Linked DNA regions of Homo sapiens. The protein of the gene in region 1 interacts with the protein of each later gene in a pairwise test. Each region holds a gene or a part of one and is shown in the gene's direction. Other genes may lie near its edges.

What was found. Proteins that work in one complex are often made in the same cells at the same time.
Region 2: the proteins of RNF125 (region 1) and UBE2U interact in a two-hybrid assay, tested with the Homo sapiens proteins (one large-scale study listed by BioGRID and IntAct).

The regions. Positions count from the first base shown.
Region 1 is NC_000018.10:32,024,282-32,029,945, forward strand, and holds part of RNF125 (E3 ubiquitin-protein ligase RNF125), read left to right. Parts: intron 1-5,664. UniProt on the Homo sapiens protein: E3 ubiquitin-protein ligase that mediates ubiquitination and subsequent proteasomal degradation of target proteins, such as RIGI, MAVS/IPS1, IFIH1/MDA5, JAK1 and p53/TP53.
Region 2 is NC_000001.11:64,217,123-64,220,622, forward strand, and holds part of UBE2U (ubiquitin-conjugating enzyme E2 U), read left to right. Parts: intron 1-888; exon of another isoform or gene 889-931; coding exon of another isoform or gene 932-932; intron 933-3,500. UniProt on the Homo sapiens protein: Catalyzes the covalent attachment of ubiquitin to other proteins.

The DNA.
Region 1 (5,664 bases):
AACCTCTGCCTCCCAGGTTCTCCTGCCTCAGCCTCCTGAGTAGCTGGGATTACAGGCGTGCACCACCACACCCGGCCTCATGCCATTCTTACAACCTTTCTCTCCAAGAACATATCTTGCTTTTTTGGTATATTCTGCCTGAAGAATTGTTTGTCTTATTTCTAGTAGTTTTATTTGTTTGTTTTTAGAGATATGATCTAAGAACAAACTACTCAGTGATGTGATCATAGCCTACTGCAACCTCAAATTCCTGGGCTCAAGCAATCCTCCTACCTCAACCTCCTGAGTAGCTGGAACAACAGGCATGCCCCACCACACCCTGCTAAAATTTTATTTTTTTATAGAGACAGGGTCTGCCTATGTTGCCCAGGCCAATCTTGAATTCCTAGGCTCAAGTGATCCTCCTGCCTTAGCCTCTCAAAGAGCTGGGATTACAGGCATGAGCACTCCCAAACTGCTGGGATTACAGGCATGAGCCACCACACCCAGCCAACTAACAATTTAAAACTAGCTTTATTGCTGGGCACAGTGGCTCACACCTATAATCCCAGCACTTTGGGAGGCCGAGGCAGGCGGATCACTTGAGCCCAGGAGTTGGAAACCAGCCTGGTCAACATGGCGAAACCTTGTCCCTACTGAAAATACTAAAAAATTAGCCGGGCATGGTGGCGCACATGGAGGCTGAGGTGGGAGAATCGCTTGAACCTAGGAGGCAGAGGTTGCAGTGAGCTGAGATCGCACCACTGCACTCCAGCCTGGGTGACAGATTGAGAGTCGTTCTCAAAAAAACAAAAACAAACAAAAAAACCTAGCTTGATTTACCAAAGATTACTAAAGTCATATGAACTTCGAAAAACATTTGGGATAGTTAATTTGTGAGTACTCATTTATTTAGAAGTCAGTTTGGTACTACAGACTATACAAACTCATGTGTAAACATATATATACATGTAGACACAACATATATCACATGCACACACCAGTATCCAAAAGCCAGAGAGATTAGGAAGTTTAATGCAGGAGAGCAGAACTTTAGACATGAGAGGATGGACCCTGCCCATGGCTTCTGTGGCTCAGTGAGAAGACAGAGGACCCCCAATGGCCAGGCGTGGTGGCTCACGCCTGTAATCCCAGCATTTTGGGAGGCTGAGGTGGGGGGATCACCTGAGGTCAGGAGTTCGAGACCAGCCTGCCCAACATGGCGAAACCCCGTTTCTCTAAAAATACAAGAAAATTAGCCAGGGGTGGTGGCAGGCACCTGTAATTCCAGCAACTCAGGAGGCTGAGGCAGGAGAATCACTTGAACCCAGGAGGTGGAGGTTGCAATAGCCGAGATGGCGCCACTGCACTCTAGCCTGGGTGACAAGAGTGAAACTCTGTCTCAAAAAAAAAAAAAAAAAAAAAAAAGAAGACAGAGGACCCCCAAAGAGGGGCGATTGGTGGCTTTTGTGTTTGTGTATGCGTGTGTGTGTGTGTTCCTCAAGGGGTCTCAGGGTTCACAGAAGTCCCCTCTAGGCCTCTTCATGTGGTATCAAAAATGGCAAAAAGGAGGAGGGGCAGAAGGGGAAGGAAATGGAAGAACAAGTCTTAGAGGAGCCAATTTGGGGAGATTTTAAGCTTTCAAAAGGCCAATACAGTTTTAGTTAGTAGGAGTCTGAGGAACAAAAAAAGGTCTAGTTGACTAAGAAGTTCCCAAGGGAGAAACAGGATTTGAAAGAGAACAGAGAATATCAGCTATTAATTAAGCTGGCTTTTGACCACAGAGCCATCTTTCTTAAAAAAAACTTTTTTTTTTTTTTTTGAGATGGAGTCTTGCTCTGTTGCCCACGCTGGAGTGCAACAGCGCAATCTTGGCTCACTGCAACCTCCGCCTCCTGGGTTCAAGCGATTCTCGTGCCTCAGCCTAAAAAATCCTTTTAAATATGCAAGCAGCAAACATTTTGTCCTCTGAGCACCCGGTCTTTTTTTTTTTTTTTTTTTTTTTTGAGATGTAGTCTTGCTCTGTCGTCCAGGCTAGAGTGCAGTGGCCCGATCTGGGCTCACTGCAACCTCTGCCTCCCGGGTTCAAGCAATTCTCCTGTCTCAGCATCCCGAGTAGCTGGGACTACGAGGGTGTGCCACCACACCCACCTAATTTTTGTATTTTTAGTAGAGAAGAGGTTTCACCATGTTGCTCTCAAACTCCTGACCTCAGGTGATCTGCCTGCCTCGGCCTCCCAGAGTGCTGGGATTACAGGTGTGAACCACTGTCCCCAGCCTGAGCACCCAGTCTTTTGTGGGAGCAGAGAGAATGGTAGCTGTGGCATTTCATGCTTCTTTTTCCCCAGACCCTCCCAGCACCCCCTCTTTAGGGGGTACCCACCTCTCCTCACCTGTTTGGTTCCCAGCTGTAGCAGGAGGTATGTCTCTCTGGCCCCGTAGAGGAAGCAGATTAATGGGGAAAAAGTTACTATCACACTCTAAATATAAACCAACGTTTTAACCAAAGGAAATAACTCAAAATCAAAACAAATAAGAACATTTGAGACTGAAACCAAGAAGCTCTTGATGGCTTCAACCAAGGTTTCCTAAGAGGGAGCAAAAGTTGCAACCCTTTCAAAATCCAGATCATTCCCTACAACAGCTTAAAGAAAGCAAGGTTTTGCCAGCCGCAAATGGGGTACAACCCACATTTTTGTCTGGCCATATTCTCTAGGGTTTAAGACAGAGGAAAACAACAGCTGGATGAGAGGCTTACAGAATGAATGGGTACCCCAAAGGTTAAGAAGTCATACAAATATAAATTCAAAACAATTCAAACTAATTTTTTCCAAGTATTTCTTTTATTTTTCCTTCCTGAGTTAAAGGATTTACATCTCCTGGGGTCTTGTTCCCTGAAAGGGAATTGAATCCAGGCTGCAGTGGTGAAAGTGCAGAATCCTTACCACTGGACTACAGGATGGAGTCTTTTTTTTTTTTTTTTAATTTAACAAATTTCATAAGGAATCTAAAGCATGCAATTTGAGTACAAAGGATTTTAACTTTGTTTTAAATCTGATTTCTACTTTTCAAAAATCTTGCCGAGGGAGTTTCTAAACCTGTATTCCTTTTGTATCTTTTCATAGGTACCAATAAGGTAGCTATTTAAGATGTGAGCTCTAAAAAGTTTTCTTTTAAATATAGCCATTCATTTATTTTAAAAGCGATTGAAACCAATACAAGAACTAATTTATATGTTTTTCTCTGTTGATCCAAATTTAGAAAGGGTAAAACACAGAGACTCATACCATCCACATTTGACCAGGCACTATAGGCAGAGATCGGAGAGGAGAACTGACTTGGTTAAAAAAAAATGAGTTTACCTTTCTTTGCTGGCTTTTCATCCGTTGTTCCAAGATCCCATTCATTGGCTCTAGAATGAACAAAATGACTTACATCCTGATCACAACACCAAAAATTTTTCTCCTAAAGATTCGATACTTTGAGTCTATAAAACAGGCAGATAACAGATTAATGGGATAAAAGCATACACATTTATTAATATGCATATGGGCGTGGGAGTCATACAAAATATGAAAACTGAAAGAAAGGGCCAGATGCTTGATGCTTTTATACTTGAGGTTACAGAAGAATGGGGGATTGCAAGATGGCAAGACAAGTTATAAGAGGGAAAAAAAAACATAAGGGGCAAAGCTGTTCTTGTTATACAGATGAAACTTCACAGGTAGAAGCTCTCAGAAAGAATGGGCAGTAGTCGGCCGGGCGCGGTGGCTCACACCTGTAATCCCAGCACTTTGGGAGGCTGAGGCGGGCGGATCATGAGGTCAGGAGATCGAGACCATCCTGGCTAACATGGTGAAACCCCGTCTCTACTAAAAATACAAAAAATTAGCCGGGCATGGTGGCGGGTGCCTGTAGTCCCAGCTACTCAGGAGGCTGAGGCAGGAGAATGGTGTGAACTAGGGAGGCAGAGCTTGCAGTGAGCCGAGATTGCACCACGGCACTCCAGCCTGGGCAACAGAGCGAGACTCCGTCTTAAAAAAAAAAAAAAAAAAAAAAAAAAAATAATAGGTAGTGGTTCATGATAAGTTTTTTTGTTAGACCTTCAAACGTTTCAGACTCTTGGTTAATCTCCTAGATTGGGCAGGGGAGACCTCAGAAAGCCTGCCTATTTATTTCACCAATGTAGACTTTCTCTACCAATGTAGACTTTTCTCTCCCCCACAACATGCAGCTTTTCAGGGTTTTTCCTTTCTGCAGGCCATCTCAATAGCCATCTCGAAGTATGTCAAATAATTATTTTTGGGGGTAAAATATTTTGTTTCCTTTTTTTTTTTTTTTTGAGATGGGGTCTCGCTCTGTTATTCCGGCTGGGGTGCTGTGGCGTGATCTCAGCTCACTGTAACCTCTACCTCCTGAGTAGCTGGGACTACAGGTGTGTGCCAACACGCCCGGCTAATTTTTGTATTTTTTAGTAGAGATGGGGTTTTGCTATGTTGGCCAGACTGGTTTCAAACTCCTGGCCTCAAGTGATCTGCCCACCTCAGCCTCCCAAAATGCTGGGATTACAGGTTGAGCCACCCTGCCCAGCCAATTTTCTTTACCACTAAGTTGCTTAATCTCTTTGAATCTCTGTTTCTTCATTTGTAAAATGGGGTGAGTAGTGCCATTTTTATGAATATTTAAAATGTAAAAGTATCCCATAGTAAAGGCTCAAAACATGGTTTCTCTTTCCTTCAGTCATTCCATAAGCAAAACCCCAGGAACAGATATTATTTCTTATCTCTGTATTTCTTTTGGAAGAACACTGTGCCATGAAAAGTTGATCTATGACATTTCTAAGATGTCTCATATAGCCTCACTTTTAGCTTAGTTCTTTTTCCTTTGGTGGACTTTAATTTAAGAAGTTTCACTTTAATGTTTTATAATTTTAAGTGAACTTTATTCATATTGCTGTATCAGTTGTAAAAAATAGATTTGAAGGAAGAGCCTTCTCACTTCTGCCTTATCTTCTATTAGAAAGCTGGGGTGAGAGCCACTAGATAACTTGGAGCTGTATAAATGGAACTTAAAAGGAGTCTGGAGGCTGGGTGTGGTGGTTCATGCCTGTAATCTCAGCACTTCGGGAGGCTGAGGTGGAACTGCTTGAACCCCAGAGTTTGAGACCAGCCTGGGCAACAAAGTGAGACCTCGTCTGTACAGAAAAAAAAAAAAAAAAAGCTGGGCATGGTGGGGCATGCCTGTAGTCCCAGCTACTCAGGAGGCTGAGGTGGGAGGATCACTTGAGCTCGGGAGGCTGCTGTGAGCAGTGATTGCACCACTGCACTTCAGTTTGGGTGACAGAATGAGACCCTGCCTCAAAAAAAAAAAATGATTTACATTCAAAGGAAATACTCAAAGACATTTGTTGTCAGATTGAAAACAGTAGATGCAAGGGAGAAAGATATCAAAGCCAACCACTGGGCTTTAAGGCTGGTGAATAAACGGGGTCAGAGAGACTGGCACAGGAGGAAGTGAGTGCACTCATGAATGGGCCTGCTGAATGTACAGCAGTCTGATAGGCAGATATCCAAATGGAAATATCCAAAGGCTCTGGAGGAATAGACTGGGGGAAAGAGATCAGGGCTGGAGACTGAGTTATCTAAAAAGCATCTAGAGGTTGAGAATGGGCTGAAGAGAGCTAAA
Region 2 (3,500 bases), on another chromosome or scaffold:
AATTCAAGTTGCTTAAAAGAATGGACAAGGCCAGGCTGGCAGTTAGTAAACTCTCTATTACTAAAGGTATTCTTTGTATCTAGTGTTTATTTGATAGAGCTAAATGACCATTTTTCAGAGATGTTATCAAAGAGCTTCTTTGATAAAAAGCTCTGGCGCCAAGAATTGGATAAGGGGGCCTTTTCAATACCTTCCAACCTATTGTTCAACTAGTTTATGAAAACTCAGAGGAGGAAGGTCTGGAGACAATGTATAACAACTGTTTGCCTCATAGATTCTGAGTATTGCTACTTACTTTCTAATTTGTTATGAGCTTTCATAGGTTTCATATGAGCAATTATCTGCCCCTTTTTTCAGTTCATCCTTGTGAATGTTGATTTCTATGTAGTTATATTATCAAGTAATATTTATCTTCTGTTTGTCATAGTTGCTTTGATTTTTTAAAATGTAAGTTTTGTGTCATTTTTAAAACCTTTGGTTGAAGAAAAATACAAGAGTATAAAAAGAGTAAAGCTGAGTGATGGTAGCTAAGCCTGAGGTAATTATTTTTTCTTAGCCAAGTATATTCCTATAGTTTTTGATAAAAAAGGAGGATCATCTAATACATTTCAGATGCTCATCTAAATAAGCTATAATTGACATTGAGTCATAATACTAGAATAAAGGAGAATATAGAAATATTAGGGAGATTGTAATACTAATTTGTGTGATATACTTTTTAAAAACCTGATAATTCTACAAATACATCATATTCTGCTTGTGATTAAGAAAATGTTGTGACAGACATTTGATTCTTCTCCAATTCAAGTTCCCAGTTTGTTCACTGGGTTTAAAAAAATCCTTTTAATAATAGAGCAATTTTAAAGCAAATTGTCTCTACAATTGAAGCAGGTGGTGTCTCATAGGATTCCAGGTTGCCGTTTCTTTTTAAAGTGAGTATACTTCTTTGGTTAGGTGTAAGTATACCCCTTCCCCTGAGAAATATACTTTGTGGGTGTCGGGGGAACACAAAATTTAGTCCAGTAGCATTGCTTACTTGTTCAAGAACATGAGCTTTTTTAGCACCATCATTCAGAACCAGTTTTGTTGTTGATGATTACAGTTTTGTTACAGATATTCTGTTACTTAAAAATGTCATAAGATACTAAAAAACTGAGTTTAACAGCAGGGTAGAGTGTGGATCTATTTGCTCGAGTTACGTACCTCTTTTTTCCTGTTTGTATTTCATTATACCAGATAGTCCAGTAACTTTTCGGCAAAGTTTCTAAGTTGCTAGTTTTAACGAGAAATGTTAAATATTTATTTTCTATCAAAGAAATATATGTTGATAGTTTTAGAGGACAAATAATAGGAATCAGTTTTTAATGAAATATGTCCTCTATCCCTGAGTGCTGCCTGCCAGAGGCAACAATAGCTTTCAACACATTTAGCTGTTTCCTCTGGCATTTACCACCACATTTCTAAGTTGATTCTATACTAATATTTCTAGGCTTTTCGGTTTTAGATATTATTTATAGACTTCATCTTATAAAATACAAAGATTTTGCTTTTATACTACTATTGCTACCCACATTTCCTCTCCCCCATCCTCCTAATATGATTTGGTTACATTAATATGACTTTATAAATACTTGCCACAGATAAACCATAAATGATTATCTTTCTTTTCTTGTACAAAAGGTCTGATTTTACATTCCTTTGTTTTTTATGTGTGTACTATCTTTTCTTCTTCTAAACTTTCTGACAAAGCTATAAAACAGCTACTAGGTATTCAGTCAGCATCGAGTCTGTTTTGTTTTGGGAGCCCTCTTTCCTGTGGCACTCTATCCTTCCTCTCCATTTCTGAATTGGCAGTTCTCTTGCAGGTGTGCTGGGATGGCCTTTTTGGTGCCTGCTGGGTTGGAGCTCCTGCTTGCTGCTCAATCCCCATTTTCCTTGTGGTTGGTTTTGCTCCTTTGTTTTGTTGGAGTACATCTTCTAGGAGCTTCCTAGTACCTGGGAGCTAAACCTTTTATAACTTTGCATGCCTAAAAATGTAATTACGTTACTGTCATATGCTCATAGTTTGGTTAAATTTTAGTTTGGAAATAGTTTTCTTTCCAAATCGTAAATACTTTACTACATTTTAGTTTCTAGTGTTGCTCTTGAGAAGTCTAATTTCATTCCGATGTCCAATTTTTCACATGTGATTTATTCTTTTTTTTTCTGGAAGCTTTTTAAACCTTCTTTTTATTCCCAGTGATTTGAAATTTTTGATAATATTTCTTTGTGTATCCTCCCCTTCCCTGCCTCCACATTACATAGGACATTTGATAAGCTATTGAAATCTCAATCTCTAATCATTCAGTTCTGGAAAACTTTCTTATGTGATATCTTTTATAATTTCTTCTCTCTTCATTTTCCCTATTGACTCTTCTAGATCTGCTCTGATTTGAATGTTGGGTCTATTGATCTGATCCTCTAATTTTTTTTTTTTTTTTTAGACGGAGTCTCACTCTGTCTCCCAGGCTGCCAGGCTGGAGTGCAGTGGTGCGGCAATCTGGGCTCACTGCAAGCTCCACCTCCTGGGTTCACGCCATTCTCCTGCCTCAGCCTCCCAAGTAGCTGGGACTACAGGCGCCCGCCACCACACCTGGCTAATTTTTTTGTATTTTTTTAGTAGAGATGAGGTTTCACCATGTTAACCAGGATGGTCTCGATCTCCTGACCTCATAATCTGCCTGCCTTGGCCTCCCAAAGTGCTGGGATTACAGGCATGAGCCACTGCGTGCAGCCAATCCTCTAATTTTTTAAAACCAAATTTCTCCTATTATCCATCTCTTTGTTCGTTGTATATTCTGGAAGATTTTGAGAAAAATGTTTCTGTTTCCTATTTTTCTCTTTTTTTGTGGTTAGGATTGTTCTCTTTTATGGTATTGACCTTGCTCAAATGTCTAGTGATCTTTGACTATCCATTCTTATGATGGACATATGATGAATGGACTATTAAAAAGACTGGAAGTTCTGAATACAGGCTGGGCTTGTTGACAGTTTTATTTCATTGTAGAATTATTCAGTGAGAACCTGGCCATTTCATTAGACTTAACTATTTCTCCTGAGAGGAATCTGCCAGGCTTGTGGAGAGAGAGAGAGAGAGAGAGAGCAAGTGCAAGCAAGAGAGAGAGAGAGCACTGCTAATACTCTGACAGCTGGACGAGGGGAGAGAATCAGGAATCTTGTCTGTTCGATATGATTTATTCCATTTTCAGTTTCTTACTCCATCCTGTTTTGTTTCTACTGTCCTCCAGTCCTGAGTCTCTCTGGCCCAGTTTTTCCAGAGGTTAAATATCTTCCTTCTTGCGTGAGCAGTGGTCATCATGTGATTGCACAAGATGAGGGTATAAGTTTTTTGTCTGTGCTCTCCCTCTTACCCCTCCTTCCAGAGGTATCTGGCACATTCAATTCCTGAACTGTTTCACAGGTTCTGAAGTGCGAATCCATTTGCTTTTCGTTGGTCTCCT